Linked DNA regions of Homo sapiens. The protein of the gene in region 2 purifies or fractionates together with the protein of the main gene of each other region. This does not show direct contact. Each region holds a gene or a part of one and is shown on either strand. Other genes may lie near its edges.

What was found.
Region 1: the proteins of PPARD (region 2) and RHPN2 purify together in Homo sapiens (affinity purification with mass spectrometry; one large-scale study listed by BioGRID and IntAct). This does not show direct contact.
Region 3: the proteins of PPARD (region 2) and NSMCE4A purify together in Homo sapiens (affinity purification with mass spectrometry; 2 studies listed by BioGRID and IntAct, with this or other methods). This does not show direct contact.
Region 4: the proteins of PPARD (region 2) and ZNG1C purify together in Homo sapiens (affinity purification with mass spectrometry; one large-scale study listed by BioGRID and IntAct). This does not show direct contact.
Region 5: the proteins of PPARD (region 2) and APAF1 purify together in Homo sapiens (affinity purification with mass spectrometry; one large-scale study listed by BioGRID and IntAct). This does not show direct contact.
Region 6: the proteins of PPARD (region 2) and MEX3D purify together in Homo sapiens (affinity purification with mass spectrometry; one large-scale study listed by BioGRID and IntAct). This does not show direct contact.
Region 7: the proteins of PPARD (region 2) and BRAF purify together in Homo sapiens (pull-down; one large-scale study listed by IntAct). This does not show direct contact.

Annotation. Positions count from the first base shown.
Region 1 is NC_000019.10:32,998,889-33,002,388, reverse strand, and holds part of RHPN2 (rhophilin-2), read left to right. Parts: coding exon 1-142; intron 143-2,683; coding exon 2,684-2,803; intron 2,804-3,500. UniProt on the Homo sapiens protein: Binds specifically to GTP-Rho. May function in a Rho pathway to limit stress fiber formation and/or increase the turnover of F-actin structures in the absence of high levels of RhoA activity.
Region 2 is NC_000006.12:35,425,618-35,428,678, forward strand, and holds the end of PPARD (peroxisome proliferator-activated receptor delta), read left to right. Parts: intron 1-214; coding exon 215-462; 3' UTR 463-2,561; downstream 2,562-3,061. UniProt on the Homo sapiens protein: Ligand-activated transcription factor key mediator of energy metabolism in adipose tissues. Receptor that binds peroxisome proliferators such as hypolipidemic drugs and fatty acids.
Region 3 is NC_000010.11:121,961,718-121,965,217, reverse strand, and holds part of NSMCE4A (non-structural maintenance of chromosomes element 4 homolog A), read left to right. Parts: intron 1-1,889; coding exon 1,890-1,980; intron 1,981-3,110; coding exon of another isoform or gene 3,111-3,217; exon of another isoform or gene 3,218-3,465; intron 3,466-3,500. UniProt on the Homo sapiens protein: Component of the SMC5-SMC6 complex, a complex involved in DNA double-strand breaks by homologous recombination. The complex may promote sister chromatid homologous recombination by recruiting the SMC1-SMC3 cohesin complex to double-strand breaks.
Region 4 is NC_000009.12:68,248,483-68,251,982, forward strand, and holds part of ZNG1C (zinc-regulated GTPase metalloprotein activator 1C), read left to right. Parts: intron 1-323; coding exon 324-415; intron 416-3,500.
Region 5 is NC_000012.12:98,679,790-98,683,289, reverse strand, and holds part of APAF1 (apoptotic protease-activating factor 1), read right to left. Parts: intron 3,014-3,500; coding exon 2,888-3,013; intron 148-2,887; coding exon 16-147; intron 1-15. UniProt on the Homo sapiens protein: Oligomeric Apaf-1 mediates the cytochrome c-dependent autocatalytic activation of pro-caspase-9 (Apaf-3), leading to the activation of caspase-3 and apoptosis. This activation requires ATP. Isoform 6 is less effective in inducing apoptosis.
Region 6 is NC_000019.10:1,561,826-1,565,325, reverse strand, and holds part of MEX3D (RNA-binding protein MEX3D), read left to right. Parts: intron 1-3,500.
Region 7 is NC_000007.14:140,736,430-140,739,929, reverse strand, and holds part of BRAF (serine/threonine-protein kinase B-raf), read left to right. Parts: coding exon 1-118; intron 119-3,500. UniProt on the Homo sapiens protein: Protein kinase involved in the transduction of mitogenic signals from the cell membrane to the nucleus. Phosphorylates MAP2K1, and thereby activates the MAP kinase signal transduction pathway. Phosphorylates PFKFB2.

The DNA.
Region 1 (3,500 bases), on a different chromosome or scaffold from region 2:
CAACAGCTACACGCAGCCATGAGCCAGGCGCCGGTGAAAGAGAACATCCCCTACTCCTGGGCCAGCTTAGCCTGCGTGAAGGCCCACCACTACGCGGCCCTGGCCCACTACTTCACTGCCATCCTCCTCATCGACCACCAGGGTAAGGCCTGGGGGGTTCGGGAGTTTGGCGAGGGCTGTGGTCCAGCTGCCCCAGGGGCGATTCTGAGCTGAGTGAGAGCTAACTGCCTTCCCTGGAGATGCTCACAGGCTGAAGGCAGAGGATGGGAGTGACCCATGACTGAGGCAGCTGCCGCACAGGCCATGGTGGGGTTAGGGGTTATAAGCTTCTTTAGAGGGAGGAAGAAGAGGCACCTTTAATTCTGCCTGGGTGCAAGAGGATGAATTTTCACCTGGAATCTAGAATCTAAGGGAAGGCCAAAAATGCTGGCATCAAGATAAGTAACATTTTAAGGTAATATTTTAAAAGAATCAAAATTAATGCAGGCCAGGTGCTGTGGCTCATGCCTGTAATCTCAGCACTTTGGGAGGCCAAGGCAGGCAGATCATTTGAGGTCAGGAGTTTGAGACCAGCCTGGCCAACATGGTGAAACCCTGTCTCTACTAAAAATACAAAAATTAGCAGGGCATGGCACGTGCCTCTAATCCTAGCTACTCGGGTGACTGAGGCAGGAGAATGGCTTGAGCCAGGGAGGTGGAGGTTGCAGTGAGCCGAGATTGTGCCACTGCACTCCAGCCTGGGTGACAGAGCAAGACTCCATCTCAAAAAAACTAATAATAATAAAATAAAAATTAATGCAAAAAAAATCTGTGATGATCGGAATTTTATTTTATTTTATTATTTTATTTATTTTATTTTATTGTTAGAGATGGGGCTGGAGTGCAGTGGTATGATCATGGCTCACTGCCTTCTTGAACTCCTGGGCTCAAGCGATCCTCCCAATTCAGCCTCCCAAATAGCTGGGAATACAGGCACATGCCACTACACCAGTTAATTAAAAAAAATTTTTTTTTTATAGAGATGGAGTCTCACTATGTTGCCTAAGTTGGTTTCAAACTCTTGGCCTCAAGCAGTTGTCCTGCCTTGGCCTCCCCAAAGTGTTGGGATTACAGGCATGAGCCATGGTGCCTGGCCAGGGATTTTTGATCTAATGAGTACTAATCCAGGCAGCCTCCCAAGGAATTAAAAAGACAGCCTCTGGAGCCAGACTTCCTGGGTTCATATCTCAGCTCTTCCATGAATGAGCTGTTTTACCTTGGGCAAGTTACTTAGCTGTCCTCTGCCTCAATTTTCTCATCTGTAAAATGGGTATATGGAGAGAACCTGCCTCACAGGCTGTCATGAAAACGAAAACGAAGGGCCTGTACGCAAAGCTCAATAATGCTTTATATACTGTAGGTTCTCTGAAAGTGTGAGCCGCCACTCCTAGTACTATATAGTCTATTAGGTGAGACAAGATGTGAAAACAAATAGAAATACCATATAGTGCCTCGGTGATTGCTGTAGAGACACAAATGCAGCAGCAGGTGGACTCCATGGTACAGTCATGGATGGCTTCTTAGAGGCAGTGACATTTGAGTTCAACTTTTCCATCTGCACAGGAGGGAAGGGTCAGCCTAGAGGGAGTAAAGTGTCTGAGCACAGAACAGAGGCGGAGGGTGCTGGGGAAGTGGAGAGTGGTTTTGTGAGGTTTGAGAGCAGGATGCGCGCCACGAAGGGTGTGGTTGAAGCAGGAAGGGGCTCTGCTGCAGGTGTGCAGGCCCGCAGAGGGGTGCAGGCCGGGCATGACAGGGTCTGGGCTATGCCAGGAGGTTCTGTGTGGTGGGTGAGTTGGAGGAGGTAGCGTGTGGGGGCTCAGGGTCAAATTACAAACCTTGCCGGGTGTGGTGGCTCACGCCTATAATCCCAGCACTTTGGGAGGCCGAAATCGGTGTGGATCACGAGGTCAGGACCAGCCTGGCCAAGATGCTGAAACCCCATCTCTACTAAAAATACAAAAATTAGCCGGGCATGGTGGCATGTGCCTGTAATCCCAGCTACTCGGGAGGCTGAGGCAGGAGAATCGCTTGAACCCGGGAGGTGGAGGTTGCAGTGAGCCAAGATCACACCACTGCACCCAAGCCTGGGTGACAGAGCGAAACTCCATCTCAAAAAAAAAAAAAAAAATTATGAACCTCTGGAGTGTGACTGGTCCCAGTGAGCAAGAGCTTTGGGGTAGCCAGGCATAGTGGCTCACACATTTGATCCCAGCACTTTGGGAGGCTAAGGCAGGAGGATCGTTTGAACCCAGGGGTTTGAGACCAGCCTGGGCAATGTAGCAAGACCTTGTCTTTACAAAAAAATTTAAAAATTAGCCTGGCATGTGGTGGTGCATGTCTGTAGTCCTAACTACTCAGGAGGTGAGGTGGGAGGATCACTTGAGCCCAGGAGTTCAAGGCGGCAGTGAACTATGATTGTGCCATTGCACTCCAGCCTGGTAACAGAGTGAGACCGTCTCAAAGAAAAGAAAACCTTGAGGGTTAGACGGCCTGGGGTGTGTCCGGGGGCAGAAAGGAGACCCATGATCCCAAATGCCTTGTGAAACTGCAGAAAAAAGGAAGCTGGAGACATGGTAGAGAAATCTCTACGTGGGTCTGTGGCCAGGTCCATGAGAGGGGATTTAACCTGTGGTTCTCTTTGCAGTGAAGCCAGGCACGGATCTGGACCACCAGGAGAAGTGCCTGTCCCAGCTCTACGACCACATGCCAGAGGGGCTGACACCCTTGGCCACACTGAAGAATGATCAGCAGCGCCGACAGCTGGGTGCGTGTCCCCCTGCACCCAGATGTGGGCCCCACTTGGTGCCCAGCTGGTCCTGCTCACAGCCAGCCACAGAGAGGTCCCTGAAGAGGGCCCGGGAGAGGGGGGTGTTCCGAGTCATCGTGGCCACTTTGGGTTCAGAAGTCATGAGGCGCGGTCCTGAGCCTCAGAGGGCTTCCCAGGCTGTGTTCTCATGGGTTCCATAGCACCCAGGCCTCCCACTGTGGAGCCAGGACTTTAACCATCTCCCTTGGGGTCCACAGGGTGGCATGTGTCACGCTAACAGGGAAGGAGACGTTTGTTGATTTCCTTATGCATGGCTGAATTACCAAGAACACCTAATGACTGGTAATGCAGTGTCCTGGTTTGGTCTCTGCCATGTCTCAGTGTGAATATCTCTTCCCATGTGCAGACCTCACCTCCACCACCCTAACCTGCCCCTCTGCGCACCACCCATGCACACATACGCAGCTTCTCCGTCTCAGTGATGGCAACTCCCACCCCTCTAGGTGCTCAGGCCAGAAACCTTGGACTCACTCTCCACGCTTCTTTTCTTTCCTCCTCTTTCCCATCCCCTCCCCTCTGCTCCCCTCCCCTCTCCTCCCCTCTGTTCCCCTCCCTTCCCCTCCTCTCCTGTTCTCTCCTCTCCTCTTCCCTCCCCTGTTACCCTCCGCTCCCCTTCTCTCTCCTCCTCTCTTCT
Region 2 (3,061 bases):
GAGGTGGGGACAAATTGGCAAAAAACAAAAGAAGTGGATTAAGACCAGGGGTAGGGAGATTAGAACACCCAGTGGAGCATTGCTGATGGGACAGGGCTTGGTCTGTCACGGCCAAGGAGGCCTGCCGTCCCCTGGGCCAAGTCACCTCTTGGGGTGGAAGTAGGGGAGCTCCACTGCCTTTCTGAGCTCCCTGGCGTGCCCTGTGTCCCCACAGACCGGCCAGGCCTCATGAACGTTCCACGGGTGGAGGCTATCCAGGACACCATCCTGCGTGCCCTCGAATTCCACCTGCAGGCCAACCACCCTGATGCCCAGTACCTCTTCCCCAAGCTGCTGCAGAAGATGGCTGACCTGCGGCAACTGGTCACCGAGCACGCCCAGATGATGCAGCGGATCAAGAAGACCGAAACCGAGACCTCGCTGCACCCTCTGCTCCAGGAGATCTACAAGGACATGTACTAACGGCGGCACCCAGGCCTCCCTGCAGACTCCAATGGGGCCAGCACTGGAGGGGCCCACCCACATGACTTTTCCATTGACCAGCCCTTGAGCACCCGGCCTGGAGCAGCAGAGTCCCACGATCGCCCTCAGACACATGACACCCACGGCCTCTGGCTCCCTGTGCCCTCTCTCCCGCTTCCTCCAGCCAGCTCTCTTCCTGTCTTTGTTGTCTCCCTCTTTCTCAGTTCCTCTTTCTTTTCTAATTCCTGTTGCTCTGTTTCTTCCTTTCTGTAGGTTTCTCTCTTCCCTTCTCCCTTGCCCTCCCTTTCTCTCTCCACCCCCCACGTCTGTCCTCCTTTCTTATTCTGTGAGATGTTTTGTATTATTTCACCAGCAGCATAGAACAGGACCTCTGCTTTTGCACACCTTTTCCCCAGGAGCAGAAGAGAGTGGGGCCTGCCCTCTGCCCCATCATTGCACCTGCAGGCTTAGGTCCTCACTTCTGTCTCCTGTCTTCAGAGCAAAAGACTTGAGCCATCCAAAGAAACACTAAGCTCTCTGGGCCTGGGTTCCAGGGAAGGCTAAGCATGGCCTGGACTGACTGCAGCCCCCTATAGTCATGGGGTCCCTGCTGCAAAGGACAGTGGGCAGGAGGCCCCAGGCTGAGAGCCAGATGCCTCCCCAAGACTGTCATTGCCCCTCCGATGCTGAGGCCACCCACTGACCCAACTGATCCTGCTCCAGCAGCACACCTCAGCCCCACTGACACCCAGTGTCCTTCCATCTTCACACTGGTTTGCCAGGCCAATGTTGCTGATGGCCCCCTGCACTGGCCGCTGGACGGCACTCTCCCAGCTTGGAAGTAGGCAGGGTTCCCTCCAGGTGGGCCCCCACCTCACTGAAGAGGAGCAAGTCTCAAGAGAAGGAGGGGGGATTGGTGGTTGGAGGAAGCAGCACACCCAATTCTGCCCCTAGGACTCGGGGTCTGAGTCCTGGGGTCAGGCCAGGGAGAGCTCGGGGCAGGCCTTCCGCCAGCACTCCCACTGCCCCCCTGCCCAGTAGCAGCCGCCCACATTGTGTCAGCATCCAGGGCCAGGGCCTGGCCTCACATCCCCCTGCTCCTTTCTCTAGCTGGCTCCACGGGAGTTCAGGCCCCACTCCCCCTGAAGCTGCCCCTCCAGCACACACACATAAGCACTGAAATCACTTTACCTGCAGGCTCCATGCACCTCCCTTCCCTCCCTGAGGCAGGTGAGAACCCAGAGAGAGGGGCCTGCAGGTGAGCAGGCAGGGCTGGGCCAGGTCTCCGGGGAGGCAGGGGTCCTGCAGGTCCTGGTGGGTCAGCCCAGCACCTGCTCCCAGTGGGAGCTTCCCGGGATAAACTGAGCCTGTTCATTCTGATGTCCATTTGTCCCAATAGCTCTACTGCCCTCCCCTTCCCCTTTACTCAGCCCAGCTGGCCACCTAGAAGTCTCCCTGCACAGCCTCTAGTGTCCGGGGACCTTGTGGGACCAGTCCCACACCGCTGGTCCCTGCCCTCCCCTGCTCCCAGGTTGAGGTGCGCTCACCTCAGAGCAGGGCCAAAGCACAGCTGGGCATGCCATGTCTGAGCGGCGCAGAGCCCTCCAGGCCTGCAGGGGCAAGGGGCTGGCTGGAGTCTCAGAGCACAGAGGTAGGAGAACTGGGGTTCAAGCCCAGGCTTCCTGGGTCCTGCCTGGTCCTCCCTCCCAAGGAGCCATTCTGTGTGTGACTCTGGGTGGAAGTGCCCAGCCCCTGCCCCTACGGGCGCTGCAGCCTCCCTTCCATGCCCCAGGATCACTCTCTGCTGGCAGGATTCTTCCCGCTCCCCACCTACCCAGCTGATGGGGGTTGGGGTGCTTCCTTTCAGGCCAAGGCTATGAAGGGACAGCTGCTGGGACCCACCTCCCCCTCCCCGGCCACATGCCGCGTCCCTGCCCCGACCCGGGTCTGGTGCTGAGGATACAGCTCTTCTCAGTGTCTGAACAATCTCCAAAATTGAAATGTATATTTTTGCTAGGAGCCCCAGCTTCCTGTGTTTTTAATATAAATAGTGTACACAGACTGACGAAACTTTAAATAAATGGGAATTAAATATTTAAGAGCTGACTGGAAGCTGACTCAGTTACTTGCATGTTTTTCCTGGGGCTTACAGGGCTCCACGCCTCCTCCACATCCAGTACTGGAGGGCAAAGGAGGCTTTGGGCTCCAAAACCCTCCCCTGCCTCCACCTCGCTTTGCTCACCGCTTGTCAGTCAGGTGGACGACTATGCCATTTCCGCCCTGCAGAGAGAATTTGGGGTGTGAGGGGACAAAGGACTTGTGGTGCCCTGGCCTCACCTGGTGGAGCACTTGGGGTCTGGGGAAGGGGAAGGCCCCTGGAGGAGGCGGATGCAGGACTCAATAGATCAAAGCCAGTTTTTCATCACCACAAGAGATCACGGCTTTCCTCTCCTTTGCTGCCACCCAGCTCTCTCCTGTCTTTCCTGAGTGCCATCTCCCCAGCGGTCCAGTCGAGCCCAGCCCCCGGCAGCCATGGGTTTGTTTGCAGTGTGAGGCCAGGTCAGGGTGTGTAACAGAGTATGTGTTTAGTCAGGAAAAA
Region 3 (3,500 bases), on a different chromosome or scaffold from region 2:
GCAATTTGGCCATTTTTTCTAAGTGTGCGGGTCTGGAGCCAGGTTTTGTCACTTAAATAATCATTTTATTTAAGCCTTTAAGCATTTTATTGGATTGGCTGCTTGTCTTTGTTTTAACTCATTTCTCTAGTTTTGATCAGTTCTCCGAAGCCAGGGTCAACCTCAGCACTGTCAACATTTACGGCTGGATAATGTTGGTTTGGGGAGCTGTCCTGCGCATTGTAGGATGCTTAGCGGCATCCCCAGCCTCTACCTGTTATATGCTAATAGCCCCCCCGACCCCTGAGTTGTGACAACCAAAAATGTCTACATGTGACAACAAATGTTCCCTGGGGAGGTGGGGGGAAAGTCACACCCACTCGAGAACCACTGTTTCTAAACCGCCCTTTTGTATTTTGCTATTTTATGTTCAACCTGAAAATGGTTAATCTGGTAATGTTACTATTCTATTAAGAAATTGATATGAAAATGTTACTGAGGCCAGGCACAGTGGCTTACGCCTGTAATCCCAGCACTTTGGGAGGCCGAGGCGGGCAGATCACAAGGTCAGGAGTTCGAGACCAGCCCGGCCAATACGGGGAAACCCCGTCTCTACTAAAAATACAGAAATTAGCTAGGTATGGTGGCAGGTGCCTGTAGTCCGGGCTATTCGGGAGGCTGACGCAGGAGAATTAGGAATCTAGGAGGCAGAGGTTGCACTGAGCCGAGATCATGCCACTGTACTCCAGCCTGGGCGACAGAGCGAGAGTCCGTCTCAAAAAAAACAAAGGTTGCCCGAGTGTGGTGGCTTACGCCTGTAATCCCAGCACTTTGGGAGGCCAAGGCGGGCAGATCCACCTGAGGTCAGGAGTTAGAAACCAGCCTGGCCAACATGGTGAAACCCTGTCTCTACTAAAAAGTACAAAAAATTAGCCAGATGTGGTGGTGGGTGCCTCTAATCCCAGCTACTCTGGAGGCTGAGGTAGGAGAATTGCTTGAACCTGGGAAGCGGAGGTTGCAGTGAGCCGAGATGGCACCACTGCACTCCAGCCTGGGCCACAGAGCAAGACTCCATCTCAAAAAAAAAAAAAAAAAGTTACTGAAACCAGAAAATCTGTTTTTTTTTAAACCATAATTTTTTTTGAGACAGAGTCTTGCCCTATCACCCGGGCTGGAGTGCAGTGGCGCGATCTCGGCTCACTGCAACCTCCGCCTGCTGGGTTCAAGCCATTCTCCTGCCTCAGCCTCCCAAGTAGCTGGGATTACAGGCAGGCACCACCATGCCCGGCTAATTTTGGTGTTTTTTAATAGAGACGGTTTCACCATAATGGCCAGGCTGGTCTCGAACTCCTGACCTTGTGATCCACCTGCCTCAGCCTCCTACAGCGCAGGGATTACAGGCGCGATGTCGGCTCACTGCAAGCTCCGCCTCCCGGGTTCATGCCATTCTCCTGCCTCAGCCTCCTGAGTAGCTGGGAGTACAGGCGCCTGTCACCACACCTGGCTAAGTTTTTGTATTTTTAGTAGAGATGGGGTTTCACCGTGTTAGCCAGGATGGTCAGCAAGACCCCATATCTAAAAAAATTTTTTTTAATTAGCCAGGTGTCTTAGACAAGGTAGAATGAATTAAAAAAAAAAAAATTAGCCAGGTGTAGTGGTGCACGCTTCTAGTGCCAGCTACTCAAGAAGCTGAGGTGGTAGGATCCCTTGAGCACAGGAGTCTGAGGTTACAGTGAGCCGAGATCATGCAACTGCACTCTAGCCTGGGTGGCAAAGCAAGACCCTGTCTCAAAAAAAAAAAAGAGTTCGGGTGTGCAAGAGAGAAGAAAAGGAGTTTGGGTGTGCAAGAGAGAAGAAAACGTTAATAGGCCAGTAAGTAGGTCTGTCAGCTTGATAATGACTTTTTTCAGTTAAGAAGAATGGAAGAATCTCATCAAGAAGCAACAGAGAAAGAAGTAGAAAGAATCTTGGGATTGTTGCAGACATATTTTCGAGAAGATCGTAAGTGTAACACCATTCAAAGTGGAGCAATTTGTATTTATCTGTTCACTGAGGTTACTTGTATTTAAAAGGCAATTTCAGCTGTATGTAATATTTGAATAAATACATATGCATTTTATGAGGATTCTTCTCCCCTTTAGAAATTTCATGTGAAAACTTTGAAGTTAACGTTTTCATTTTTATCTTTAAAAGATGGGGATTTTTTTTGTTACAAAATGAAATATGCCATTCAAGTGAGAAATGTCAAAAGTAGCTGTTCCACCTCCCCTCATTATAAAATGTAATGTGTATATTTTCAGATTATTTTATCAGTTTTATACACACCTACCTAAATAGTTTGTTTTGGCCGGGCGTGGTGGCTCACACCTGTAATCCCAGCACTTTGGGAGGCTGAGGTTGGGAGTTCGATACCCGCCTGACCAACATGGAGAAACCTCATCTCTACTAAAAATACAAAATTAACCGGGTGTGGTAGTGCATTCCTGTAATCCCAGCTACTTGGGAGGCTGAGGCAGGAGAATCGCTTGAACCCGGGAGACAGAGGTTGCGGTGAGCCAAGATCACGCCATTGCACTCTAGCCTGGGCAACAAGAGCGAAACTACATCTGAAAAAAAAAAGTTTGTTTTTTTCTTTTTTTCCAAGCTAATCATAATATGCACATTCTTCTGCTACGTGACTTTTCCATGTGGACATTCTTCCACATCATTTCATATAGATCTCCCTTGTTTTGTTCACTGATTCCCATTATATGGCTGTACTGTAAATATATTTAACAGATCCTCCATTAATGGATGATTAAGTTCCTTTTTTTTTTTTTTGAGACAGAGTCTCGCTCTGTCGCCCAGGCTGGAGTGCAGTGGCGCGATCTTGGCTCACTGCAACCTCTCCCTCCTGGGTTCACGCCATTCTCCTGCCTCAGCCTCCCAAGTAGCTGGGACTACAGGCACCCGCCACCACGCCTGGCTAATTCTTTTGTACTTTTAGTAGAACCTGGGTTTCACCGTGTTAGCCAGGATGGTCTTGATCTCCTGACCTTGTGATCCACCCACCTCGGCCTCCCAAAGTGCTGGGATTACAGGCATGAGCCACCGCGCCCGGCCAAGTTCCTATTTTTTTTTTTTTTTTTTAGGAGACAGTCTCACTCTTTCGCCCAGACTGGAATGCAGTGGCACCATCTCAACTCACTGCAACCTCCACCTCCTGGATTCAAGCAATTCTCCTGCCTCAGCCTCCTGAGTAGCTGGGATTACAGGCGCACGCGCCACCACATCTGGCTAATTTTTTTTCTGTATTTTTAGTAGAGACATTGTTTCGCCATGTTGGCCAAGCTAGTCTTGAACCCCTGACCTCAGGTGATCTGCCAGCATCGGCCTCCCAAAGTGCTGGGATTACAGGTGTGAGTGCCATGCCCAGCTGGATGATTAAGTTCTTTATAGCATTTTACTCTTGTATAAATTGCTGAAGTAAAAAATCTTAGTATGTAATTTTGTGCAGTTACACTTGTATTTCTGTAGCACAG
Region 4 (3,500 bases), on a different chromosome or scaffold from region 2:
ATCATTATTTTGTATGTTGGTTTTTAAAAATTTCATAAAGCTATAAAAAGATACTTGGTCAGATAAAGTTTCCTCTGCTTTTAATTTTAATAAAGTATTATTATGTATATGATTTCTTTTTACCTATTATATATATGCATCTATTGTTTTCTCACTGGTAAATATGGGACAGACATTTTGTTAGAAGGTTAGAAGTGAGTTAAATTTTCACATTCCTAAGGATACTTTTGTCTCGGGTTGTTGAATACATTTTAAAGTGTTTATAATAATCACTTCAAAATATTTAGGTAATTAACTGTAAATTATGTTTTGGTATTCTCCAGGGACAATGGCCTTAGAGCTATTGAGAATTTGATGCAAAAGAAGGGGAAATTTGATGACATACTGTTAGAGACCACTGGATTAGCAGACCCTGGTAAGAAGTGAGATTATTAATAACCAGAATATAGTTCTGTGATATATTGTAAATAGATGTATTAGAGGAATATCTAAAATGAGTATTAAAGCTTTTGTTAGTATTAAACCAAAAACTTTTTTTGGTTTAAAAGAGGAAAAGTACTCGTTTGTCATTTTCTTTGGCAGTTGAATGAATGATCAGAGTATTTCTTGGTGCTTTTAAGCTGTTAATAGAATTGGAAGTTTTATTGATTGATTTAGGATTATTTGTAAGAACAGAAGTTGTTAAAAATAAGGACATGTAGGAAGAGCAGAGACGTTCTACTTCTAAGTACAGTTGTCCCTTGGCATCCATGGCGTATTAGTTCCAGAACCTCTGAGGATACCAAAATCTATTAATGTTCAAGTCCCTTACATAAAATGGTGTAGTATTTGCCTATAACCTATGCACATCCTCCCATATACTTTAAATCATCTGTAGATTACTTATAATACCTAATACAATGTAAGTGCTGTGTAAGTAGTTATTATACTGCATTGATAAGGTAATCATGACAAGAAACTCTAAACTCTACTATGGAAAGCTACACAGAGTCAACCTGTTTCTCACAATGGGTTTCTGTTACCTTCTTACCAAGCTCTAATTCTTGATAAAGTCTGCTTATTTTCCCCAAATAACTTTTAGATAAAATCTTTATTTTCAGTTTGCATAAAAGTTAGTGCTTATTCTGTGAATCTGACCCATACCATTATTTTCTTTTTGATCTGGGTCTCTGGCATTGGGGCGATTTGTAAAACTATATTAAAGTATTTGGGGGTAATTTACTAAACAGGTCATAGTTGTCCAAAAGAAATATTGAAGTATCCTGAGAGTTCAAATGTGATCAGTGGTTATTGTACTTAAAACAATTACGTAGTAACATCATCCCCATGTTTTCAAAGTAGTATTGAATTAGGCTATTTTGGTCCTTATAGTAGGCATGGGTTTTCATACCTTTCTGATAAATCTGACTGATGATAGGACTTGGACTAATATGTTGGCGTTAAATATTATTTGAATCTGGTAAGAAAGAATATATTGTATGCTTTTATTAGAAATAGCAAATATCAGTTTATTTCATCATAGCCAGTTTTGCCATTTTATAGACAAAAACTTGATACTTTTGAGAGTTTAATTAAACACTATTCAGCTTTTCAGAGGAAGAAAGAAAAACTAAAGATCACAGAGAAAGCTTTTATACAAATTGTAGTTATAAAAAATGTTAATGTTTCTTGCTTCTAACTTTCTTTACAATAAAGATTTTATTGTTTGGGTAAAGATGGAACATTCATTGTAAAAAAATTTAAATACCTAAAAAATACAAAGAAGAAAGTTGAAAAGTAATCATCTCACTATTGTGATATACAAGTAAGGGCTGGGCATGGTGGCTCATGTCTGTAATCCCAGCACTTTGGGAGGCTGAGGCAGGTGGATCCCTTGAGGCCAGGAGTTCAAGACCAGCCTAGCCAACATGGTGAAATCCAGTCTCTACTGAAAATTCAAAAACTAGCCAGGCGTTGTGGCGCACCCCATAATCCCAGCTACTCAGGAGGCTAAGGCATGAGAATCGCTTGAAAGCTGGGAGGCGGAGGTTATGGTGAGCCGAGATCACGCCACTGCACTCCAGCCCAGGCAACAGAGCAAGACTGTATACACACACACGCACATGCACACGCACACACACACACACACATTCATACACACACACACAAGTAGGTAAATTTTATTCCAGGGATCTCTCTATGCCAGTGCTACTTGGTAGTATGTTGAATGGCAGCCTCAGCCTCAGCTGGGAGCTTGTTAGAAATGCAAATTCTTGACCAACCCAGATCTACTGAATCGGAATCTCTAAGGGAGGGGGTCAAGCAAGCTGTTTTTAATAAGCCCTTCAGGTGATTCTTATACTGTACAGCCATACCGCAGGGATATTGTGGGCTTAGTTCCATATCACTGCAGTAAACTGAATATCACAATAGAGTGAGTCACACACATTTTTTTGTTTCCCATTGCATATAAAAGTTATGCGTTTTGGCCGGGTGTGATGTGACAGGCCTGTAGTCCCAGCTACTTGGATCACTTGAGCTCAGGAGTTTGAGGCTGCAGTGAGTCATGATTGCACCACCGCACTCCAGCCTGGATGACAGCATGAGACCCCATTTCTTAAAAAAAAAAAAAAAAAAAAAAAGCTGTGTTTATACTATACTGTAGTCTATAAAATGTGTAATAGAATTGTCTAAAAAACATACATACCTTAATTAAAAATATTTATTGCTAAAAAATGCTAACGATCATCTCAGCTTTCAGCAAGTCATAATCTTTTTGCTGGTAGAGGGTCTTGCCACAATGTTGATGGGTGCTGACCAATCAGGGTAGTAGTTACTGAAGGTTGGGGTGGCTATCGCAATTTCATAAGATAATAATGAAGTTTGCTGCATTAGTTGACTCTCCCTTTCATAAAAGATGTCTCTATAGCACATGATGCTATTTGATAGCATTTTACCCACAGTATGACTTCTTTCAAAATTGGAGTCAGTCCTCTCAAACCCTGCTTTATCAATTAAGCTTCTGTCATATTTTAAATCCTTTGTTGTCATTTTGACAGTGTTCATAGCATCTTCACCAGGAGTAGATTCCATCTCAAGAAACCACGTTCTTTTCCCGTCCATAAGAAACAACTTCTCATTAGTTAAAGTTTTCTTATGAGATTGCAGGAATTGAGTCACATCTTCAGACTCCCCTTCTAATTCTAGTTCTCTTACTGTTTCCACCATATCTGCAGTTATTTCCTCCGTTGAAGTCTGAAATCCCTCAAAGTCATCTGTGAGGGCTGGAATCATCTTTCAAACTCCTATTCATGTTGATACTTTGATCTCCCATGAATCACGAATGTTCTTAATGGCATCTAGAATGATGAATCCTTTCCAGAAGGTTTTCAATTTACTTTGCCTAGATCCATCAGAGGAATCACTATCTATGGTAGCTATAGCCTTATGAAATATATTTCTTAAATAAGACTTAAAAGTCAAAGTTACTCCTTGATCAGTGGGCTGCAGAATGGATGTTG
Region 5 (3,500 bases), on a different chromosome or scaffold from region 2:
AATATCCACACTTACTTTGAGGAAGCAGTCACTTGACCCAGTGGCTAAGAGAAGATGATGACTACTGTTGGTGAAATGGCAGCAATTGACTTGCTCTGAGTGCTCATCATAGGTGTGTACTAGTTCCCCAGTCATAGAATTCCAAATCTAAAGAGAAAAGAGAAAAAATTTACAAATATCCATTATTTTCAAAGGGAGAACAGAGGGGCAAAGCAATGTCCATTGCTTTGCAAATGCTATCTTATCCTGTCATAGCAGATTTTCCTAGTTGGACAAGATGCTAATGAAACCTCTCCCCTTTCTAAAATATGGCAATATTTTGCCTTAATGTTTAAAAAAAATTATTTGCAAATATACATATATGTACCTATAGCATAACTAGAGTGTCATGAACACATGACATTTCTTAAGGGCAAGATTTCACATGTTTATATGAATGAAAGCAGGCAGAGAAGTGCTTTAAAGAGGTTAGCATAATAGATTTCTGGTCAGAAGGGTTGAGCCCAAGAGCTGGCTCTACCACTTATGACTTGTGTGTCACAAATCCCTAACTTACCTGCATCTCAGTTCCCTCTTCTGTAAAATGGGGATATCTATACCTCTCCCACACAATTTAAGATATCAAATGAGATAATGAACATGACAAGTGTTCTATGGACTTCAAGGTACCATATAAATAAGTAAAGGCAGATTGCTTAGTTAAAAAAAATAAAGGTTTTATAGTCTGAGAGAAACCCAGCTTTCAACCCTATTACTGTTCCCAGTTTAATGTAAGCTTGAGCAAGAGACTTCATCTCTGAATCTGCGTCCTCTTCTGTAAACGGGATCGACACTTAACCCTGCAAGCTGTAGCAGGAAATTGATAATGTAATATGACAAAGTGTGTAGTATTTATAGCCTCTTATAGTGTTCAGTTTTCAGTAAAAAGTAATCATCAGGCCGGGCGCGGTGGCTCACGCCTGTAATCCCAGCACTTTGGGAGGCCGAGGCGGGCAGATCACGAGGTCAGGAGATCAACACCATCCTGGCTAACATGGTGAAACCCCGTCTCTACTAAAAATACAAAAAATTAGCCAGGCGCGGTGGCGGCCGCCTGTAGTCCCAGCTACTCGGGAGGCTGAGGCAGGAGAATGGCATGAACCCGGGAGTCGGAGCTTGCAGTGAGCCGAGATAGCGCCACTGCAGTTCAACCTGGGCGAAAGAGCGAGACTCCGTCTCAAAAAAAAAAAAAAAAAAACAAAAAAATTAATCATCATTCTAGTTACTATGTAAGACAACTAAGCAGTCTATGCCATATAACAACAAACAAAAGAAATAAATTACCTAATGAACCTTCACTGGGATTTTGACTTTTTAGAGGTACTAATGTCCTTTGGCATTTCCTTTGTATGTTATCAAAGCACTGATTAGAATCCCCAGAGGTCCAGAGAGTTTATCTTATTTTAAAGTTCTTTAATAGGTATTTCTACCTCTGGCTTAGAAAACAGAAACTCATTATTATTTCCTTTTACTCCATGTAGCTCTGACTTTAGAACTGCCCTCAGTGGCCACCTCCAAGTCTGACTCAGAGTCAGAGTAGACACTACAGAGTGAATTAACTGTTGGTTAAGCCACGAGTCCAATCTATCAAGAGGTAGATTTTTCCAAGGTCTCAAATTTAGTCTGGACATTCCATAGCCCTCTTCCAGTAGGTGAAAACTTCAGGAAAACACCCAAGGCAAATTTCTTGCCCACTCCACCTAGCTACATCCAGTACTCCAGATTTAACCCCTTTGAAAAAGGGTTAAAGTAAGGTCTGTCTTCCATATATCAGTGATAACCCCCACAAGCCTTCAGTTTCTCTTGAATTCTATATTAGTATAAATGCTCCTGGTAGAAGCCAAATTTAGGAACAAGAGAATACTTAACAAAAATAAAAATTACTCTCTGGCGGGGCACAGTGGCTCATGCCTATAATCTCAGCACTTTGGGAGTCAAAGGCAGGCGGATCACTTGAGGCCAGAAGTTCAATACCAGCCTGACCAACATGGCAAAACTCTGTCTCTACCAAAACTACAAAAATTAGCTGGGCATGGTGGTGCACACCTGTGATCTCAGCTACTCAAGAGGCTGAGGCATAAGAATCAATTGAATCCTGGAGGCAGAGATTGCAGTGAGCCGAGATTGTACCACTGCACTCCAGTCTGGGTGTCAGAGCAAGACTCTGCCTCAAAATAAATAAGTAAAAATTACTCTGTTTACTTTTCTCTATTTATGTTTTTAGACCAGTAACGTAATTATTAGTTTGTTCATCCACCTGGTTTTCCACTGAATATATAAGCCAGTTCATAAGCAAATTAAAAAAATTGGGGTTGCATTTTAAAATTGTATCTTACAACAGGAATCCCCAAGTTTGTGCAGCAACACTCCTAATCACAATGCACTCAAAGATTTCAACTGATATTTAACCCATGGACTTGTCTATTAATGGAAGACAAACTCACTAATTTGTCATTGCTTTTCCCCACTGCTTGTTTAATCCTGAGGTGATCAACCTAGGCATTTTTGCTGGTGTTTAAAAATAAAGAATTTTCAGGCCACGCACAGTGGCTCATACCTATAATCCTAACACTTTGGAAGGCTGTGGCAGGAGGATCACTTGAGCCCAGGAATTGGAGTTTACAGTGAGCTATGATCATGCCACTGCCCTCCAGCCTGGGTCACAGAGCAAAATCCTGTCTCTTTAAAAAAAAGTAAAGAATTTTCAGATAGTGTTAATTTACAATGAATCAGGTTAGTAGATCAACAGGTGAGAGTCCTTTAACTCTACTTACTCTGGTCTCATGATCATGGAAAAATAAAATGAATTCTGTTGTGATTACAACTCAAGAGGAAAAGATTTTCCTACCTTCACTTTTTTATCCACTGAGCAGGTTGCTATAAATCTGTCATCTGTAGAGAATGCACAACAAAGCACTTCATCCTCATGAGCCTTGATTTCTAGAAGTTTCTCTCCTGTTTCAGCTTTGAACACCTGCACAAGTAACAATAAAATATTTTTTATAATAAACTGCTTAACTACTGGTCATCATTCAATAAAAATCTTTAAGTGAGTTTAATCATTGTCATTTTGCAAAACAGAAAGGAACCTTGGCAAAGCTACTCCCAAAATCAGAATTTCTGTCAGAATGTGTATGCCTTCACATAACTAGAGAACTATTCACTGTTACATGTTTGTAAATATCAATGAAAATGTTACAGGATCTTTGGGGTGTTGATTTTCTGGCCAGAAACTTCTGTGGCCGGTGGCGCCTTTGCCCAAGTTTTGCTTGGGCCCACTGGTCTTGTTTCACCCACTTGGCCTGACAGGCTGCATTCAGCTCACACTACCAGCCTGGGTCCCAAGCCTGCCAAGGGCGAGTCAGGCGTGGAACAGCGAGGCGTGTGTGAGTGAGCGTGGGGTCCAGCCACTGCGCACAGACGTGCTGACTGCTGCAGCGGGGCAGGCAGCTCCAGGTGCC
Region 6 (3,500 bases), on a different chromosome or scaffold from region 2:
AAGTGATCCGCCCACCTCCACCTCCCAAAGTGCTGAGATTACAGGCGTGAGCCACTGCGCACGGCCAGTTTTATTTATTTGTTTTTATTATAAAGTTTTTCTTGTAGAGACAGGGTCTTGCTCTGTTGCTCAGGCTGGTCTTGAACTCCTGGCCTCAAGCGATCCTCAGCCACCCAAAGTGCTGGGGTTCCTACAGGTGTGAGCCACTATGCCTGGACCCAAGTTGCTGGTTTTAATCCCAGCTCCAGGTCACACACAGTGGCCACCCCATAAGTGGAGTGCGCGTTGCCAGGGATGCAACTGTGGATGCCAGGACAGGTTGGCAGCTTCAGTAGTCCTTACGTCTTCCACAGCTTCGGTAGTCTGTACTTCTTCCACACTGTAGAACCATCTGTGGCTCCCAGCTTCTCCCACCCACCCCGTTCTCAAGCATACCTTTCAATGTCCTTTGTGCCCCGGCCCTGCCCCTTTACTCACCTTCCTCTCCACCCTGGGGCTCTCTGAACTTCTCATGCTTCTCTGTCAAACCCAAGCTCCAAGGTTACCCCTTCCCTGGAGGCCAGGAAGGGTGCACCTGTCCGGCCTCCCCACCTAGACAAGAGTCACACAGGCCTGGCACCAGCCCTCTCCCCAGTAGCTACGTGCTGTTCTCTGAGCTTCAGTTCTCTTGATCCTAGAGGGGGTCCGAGTGCTTTCTGGGCAGACTGTGGTCATTCAAACCCTCTGAGTTCCCACCCATCTGCTGGAGGCTCCAGTTCATTCATTTGCTATATCTTTTTTTTTTTTTTTTTTTGGGATGGAGTCTCGCTCTGTTGCCCAGGCTGGAGTGCAATGGCACGATCCCGGTTCACTGCAAGCTCCACCTCCCAGGTTCAAGCGATCCTCCTGCCTCAGCCCCCCTAGTATGTGGGATTACAGGCACGTGCCACTATGCCCAGCTGGTTTTTGTATTTTCAGTAGAGACGGGGTTTCGCCATGTTGGCCAGGCTGGTCTCACACTCCTGACCTCAGGTGATCCACCCACCTCAGCCTCCCAGAGTGCTGGGACTACAGGTGTGAGCCACTGCGCCTGGCCATTGGCTAGATCTTTATTGAGGGTCTACTGTGTGCTAAGCCTATGCCAGACTTGACCTGCCCCATCTCACTGAGGCCCATAATGTGCCCCAGGAAAGGTCCTGCAGCTCCCAGGTCACAGATGGGGAGGCAGAGGCTGCAAGAGGTAAAGAATAGGTAAAAACTGAGGGGATAGCAGCACTCAGAGAGGCTGAGGCAGGAGGATCCCTCGAGCCTAGGAATCGAGACCAGCCCGGCCAACATGGCGAAACCCTGTCTCTACAAAAAAAAAAATACAAAAATTAGGCATGGTGGCACACTCCTGCAGCCCCAGCTACTCTGGAGGCTGAGGCAGGAGGATTACTTGAGCCTGGGCGGTCGAGGCTGCAGTGAGCTATGATCTTGTCACCGCTCTCCAGTCTAGGCAACAAAGCAAGACCCTGTCTCCAAAACAAAACAAAAATCATGGGCTGGGATTCAAACCCAGTTTCTCTGGTGGGTCAGCAAAGAAAATTTCAGATTCCAAAGCTTGAGGGCTGGGGGTGAGGGGAGGCAGCCCTGTCTGGGAGACAGGCAAAGTGGAGACCCAAAAGCACAGGCGTCTCCCTCCAGCCGGCCAGCAAAGGTGCTCTAGGGGACCTCCGGCCCTGCTCCTGCTGAGACCCCAACATGTACCCTCCTTTCTCACCCCGCTTGCCAGGCACCCTGGGTGAATCTGTGCTCCGTGGCAGCCTCTCCCCCTGCATGTTCCCAGGGACAGGAACCAGGGCAGGTGCTTGGTCATGGTTGGGTCTTCAGTGTCTTGCCAGGGCCTGTACACAGAAGGTGTTCTGTGGCTAATGAATGAATGAATGAGTGAGTGATGTTGAAGGCAGGGCCTGGACTGGAAGCTGCTCAGGGCTCGCTCTCTCTGCTGTCGGCACAGGCTAAGGCTAGTGATTTTAGGTTGTTCCCCTCAGCTGGGGGCGACCCCTGGCTCACTGTCTCCCCTCCTGTCCCTTGTTCCTGGCTGCAGCCCCAGAGGCTCCTCTTCTCCTCCCATCCCCGCAGGCCCCAGGTTTTCCCGACAGCTGGGGACAGTGCTGGGGTGTTGGTGGGGACCATGCCATGGTTTTCCTGTCCATACACTGCAGAGCCCTAGGAAGAAAGGCTCTGCTAGGAAACCTCCACACTGCAGACCCAACTGAGAGTTCTGGCGTTAGTACAGTGTACATGTTCCCTTCATTCCCCGAGAGGTTTTTTTCTTTTCATTTTGAGACAGGGTCTTGCTCTTGTCGCCCAGGCTGGAGTACAGTGGCTCAGTCTCGGCTCACTGCAGCCTCCACCTCCCAGGTTCAAGCAGTTCTTTCACCTCAGCCTCCCGAGTAGCTGGGATTACAGGTATCTGCCACCACCACGCCAGGCTCATTTTTGTATTTTTAGTAGAGACGGGGTTTCGCCATGTTGGCCAGGCCGGTCTCGAACTCCTGACCTCAGGTCATCCGCCTGCCTCCACCTCCCAAAGTGCTGGGATTACAGGTGTGAGTCACCACGCCTAGCGGTTTCTTGTTGTTGTTGTTTTGTTTTGTTGTTTTTGAGACAGGGTCTGGTTCTGTTGCTCTGTCCTGAGTGCAGTGGTGTGATTGTAGCTCACTGCAGCCTCAACCTCCTGGGCTCAGACGATCCTCCCACCTCTGCCTCCCAAGTAGCTGGGACCACAGGTGCGCACCAACACACCCAGCTAATTTTCTTTTCTTTTCTTTTCTTTTGAGGCGGAGTCTCACTCTGTCGCCCAGGCTGGAGTGCAGTGGTGCAATCTCGGCTCACTGCAAGCTCTGCCTCCCGGGTTCAAGCGATTCTCCTGCCTCAGCCTCCCGAGTAACTGGGATTACAGGCGCCCGCCACCACGCCCGGCTAATTTTTGTATTTTTAGTGGAGATGGGGTTTCACCATGTTGGTCAGTCTGGTCTCGAACTCCTGACCTCGTGATCCACTGTGCCCGGTCCACACCTGGCTAATTTTTTTTTTTTTTTGAGACGGAGTCTCACTCTGTCGCCCAGGCTAGAGTGCAGTGGCGCGATCTCAGCTCACTGCAACCTCCATCTCCCAGGTTCACGCCATTCTTCTGCCTCAGCCTCCCAAGTAGCTGGGACTACAGGCGCCCACCACCACACCCGGCTAATTTTTTGTATTTTTAGTAGAGACGGGGTTTCACCGTGTTAGCTAGGATGGTCTTGATCTCCTGACCTCGTGATCCACCCATTTTGGCCTCCCAAAGTGCTGGGATTACAGGTGTGAGCCACCGTGCCCGGCCACACCTGGCTAATTTTTAAAAATTTTTTGTAGAGGCCGGATATGGTGGCTCACACCTGTAATCCTAGCACTTTGGGAGGCTGAGATGGGAGGATCACCTGAGCCCAAGAGTTCCAGACCAGCCTGGGCAACATAATAAGACCCTGTCTCTGCAG
Region 7 (3,500 bases), on a different chromosome or scaffold from region 2:
ACGAGGATACCTGTCTCCAGATCTCAGTAAGGTACGGAGTAACTGTCCAAAAGCCATGAAGAGATTAATGGCAGAGTGCCTCAAAAAGAAAAGAGATGAGAGACCACTCTTTCCCCAAGTAAGTAAAAGCTTCATGCTATCCAAAAGAACAGACTAACATTCATAGACAGATTTCTGAGCACTTTTTTGGGCACACAGTGTGTATTTCATGAGTTTGGATTCTATGTGCAGACTCCAGACAAGAAAACACATTAAGATGGCTTCATGAGGGTTGAGCAGTGGCACACCTAGAAATTTTGGGTCCTAATACAAAATATTCAGAAAGACTTTGCATTTGTCCATCAGTTCTCAGACTTCTCAGTCTTTGAACTCTTTTACACATTTAAAAATTATCGAAGACCCCCCCCCCCACAAAGAGCTTTTGTTTATATAAGTTTTAATTCCTTATTAGAAATTAAAACTATTTTTTAAAATATTAATGAATTAAACATAGTAAACCAATATGTTAAATAATATTTAGAAAAAAACAGTTCTATTATCTAAGAGAAAAAAATTAGTGAGGAGTTGTATTGTTTTACTTTTTTTGCAAATCCCTTTGCAAAAAGAAGACAGCTGGATTCTCCGCTTTTGCACTCACATTGCAATATCTCACATCATGTCACCCCTAAAAACTCTACTTAACGCTTGTAAAATAATGACAGTAAAAAAGGCAAATGATATCTTATTGTTATTACAAAAATAGTTTTGACCTCGTGGATCCCCTGGTGGTCCACGGACCACATTTTGTGAACCACTGCTTTATTTCTTCTTGGTGGTAAACAGATTCAAGCTTTCCTTTAATACTGGGTCTTTTTGAGGGGCATTTCTGCCTGATGCAGAAAAAGGAAAAGGCAGTAAGGCATTTGTCAGCTCAGCCTGCCTTTACCTAATTCTTGATAACTCACTGCTTTTTTTTTTTTTTTTCCATATTGGAAGGATAAAGCCTTAAGTTAACAAATTTCAAAAAGAACTGTAACTAAGGCCAGGTGTCGTGGCTTACAAATCTCAACACTTTGGGAGGCCAAGGCAGGCAGATCAGTTGAGGTCAGGAGTTCGAGACCAGCCTGGCCAACATGGTGAAAACCGTCTCTACTAAAAATACAAAAATTAGCTGGGCATAGTGGCAGGAGCCTGTAATCCCAGCCACTCAGGAGGCTGAGACATGAGAATCGCTTGAACCCAGGAGGTGGAGATTGTAATGAGCTGAGATGACACCACTGCATTCCAGCCAGGGCAACAGAATGAGACTCTGTTTAAAACAAAACAAAACAAAAATATCTAAATACCTCAACTAGCTTACAGAGTTTAGCTGTAGTAGATATTATAATATAAATGCAATGTTTTCTGATACTTAGGGAGCTCCTGATAGCACTGGATAAATATGCCTTGATGAATCAGTACAGTTTCAAGTGGGAAGTGCTATTTCCCATAGTAACCCTGCTACCATAATTACTGGAGTGTTCATGTATGAACTCTTAGGCCTTTGAATGCCCAGTCCTAGCTGAGTAACTCAGACAGAAGTCAATGTTACAGGAATTAGATTCACTCATCCTTTATTTTTAAATCTAAAAAATGTTATTCTTCTCTAAAGAATGAAAGAAGATAAAATTGATGGTTTTAACAAGTCTGTCAGGGTGTTGCCTAAGAAAAGAAAGGGAAAGCTAAGTGGTTGGCTGGGTAGATATAAGTTTCATTTATCAGGTTTCAAAGTTACTGTTCCTTTGAGGAAGAGTTTTTATTTTTTCTTTTTATTTTTTTATTTGTTTCTCTAAGTCAGGAAACCTCTGGGTTGAGACTGTCCTGGTGAGAGACAAGTGCTGCTGAGCAGCTTCAGCATGACCCTGTCCCATGTTCTCTTTTCACGTCATGGTGCTCGGGTTCTTACTTAGAATGTTTATTGACATTAATAATGCAAAGTACATCCTTAGGCCCACTTTTTAAATGATATTAAAAGGGGCAAAATGCTTAGCTCCATACTTCTAAATATAACATTTCATTAATTACATGGTTTCAAAAACTGAAGTGCATATGTGAACTTTCCAGATTATTGGAGGCTATCCCTTTAAAGTGTTATTTTGAAATTTTTGTTACAGGATATCTTTTCACACCATACTGTTATATGCCACATAAATTTTAGATGGCTGAAGATCTATATGTTTTATAAAATATGAAATCATTTTTATAGTTTTGAGGTAGGAAAGGCTTTCTTAATAGACAAAATTCAGAAGGAAAAAATTAGCAGATGTGAGTACATTAAAAATTTTTAAACTTCTATATAGAAAAATAACATTGAAAGATAAAAAGAATAATTGTAGCATATATAACAAAAAGTAAATGTTTATAATATACAAAGGACTCCTCCAAATCAATAAGTAACAAACAATAGAAAATGGGCAAAGGGAATATGAACAGGTGATTCACATAATAAATACAAATGGTGAATGAACTTAGGAAAAGGTGTAAATATTTCCATGGCAGTCAGTAAAATGCAAAGACACAACAGTGAAATATATTTTAATTTCGCCTCTCAGGTTGGTAATATCCAGCACTGGGAACAATGTTGGGAAGTGAGGAGGAGCATTCTATGTAAAATTTTAAAGGTTTGGTGGAAGGCAGCATTTTGGAAGACCTTGGTAGAATCCATAAATTCAAAATACTTCTAAAAATCTGTGCTATGTAACCTATTTCATAAGTATTCAGATATATATAAGAATGTTTACTATAATAAGAAAAAGACATTAAGATTAAGTTAGTTTTGTATTGATGACATGGATATTGGTGAGAGAAAAAGAAAACAAGACAGAAAACAAAATGTAGTATGATACCTCATTTTTTTTTTTTATAGGCTGGGCCTGTTCTGTTGCCCAGGCTGGAGTGCAGTAATATGATCATAGCCCACTGCAGCCTCAAACTCCTGGGCTCAAGCGATCCTCTCACCTCAGCCTCCTAAGTAGCTGGGATTGCAGGTGCCTATCACCACACCCAGCTAATTTCTTGTGGTGGTGGTGGTGGTGGTTGTAGAGATAGATTCTCACTATGTTGCCCTGGCTGGTCTTGAACTCCTGGCCTCAAGCGATCCTCTCGCCTCAGCCTCCCAAAGTGCTGGGATTACAGGCGTGAGCCCCAGTGCCCAGCCTGATAACCACTTTAAAAGGTTAAACAGAGGCCAGGCACGGTGGCTCACGCCTGTAATCCCAGCACTTTGGGAGGCCGAGGCAGGCGGATCACCTGAGGTTGGGAGTTCGAAACCAGCCTGACCAACATGGAGAAACTCTGACTCTACTAAGAATACAAAATTAGCCAGGCGTGGTGGCACATGCCTGTAATCCCAGCTACTCGGGAGGCTGAGGCAGGAAAATCATTTGAACCCAGGAGGCGGAGGTTGCGGTGAGCCGAGATCGCACCATTGCACTCCAGCCTGGGCAACAAGAGTGAAATTCCATCTCCAAAAAAAAAAAGTG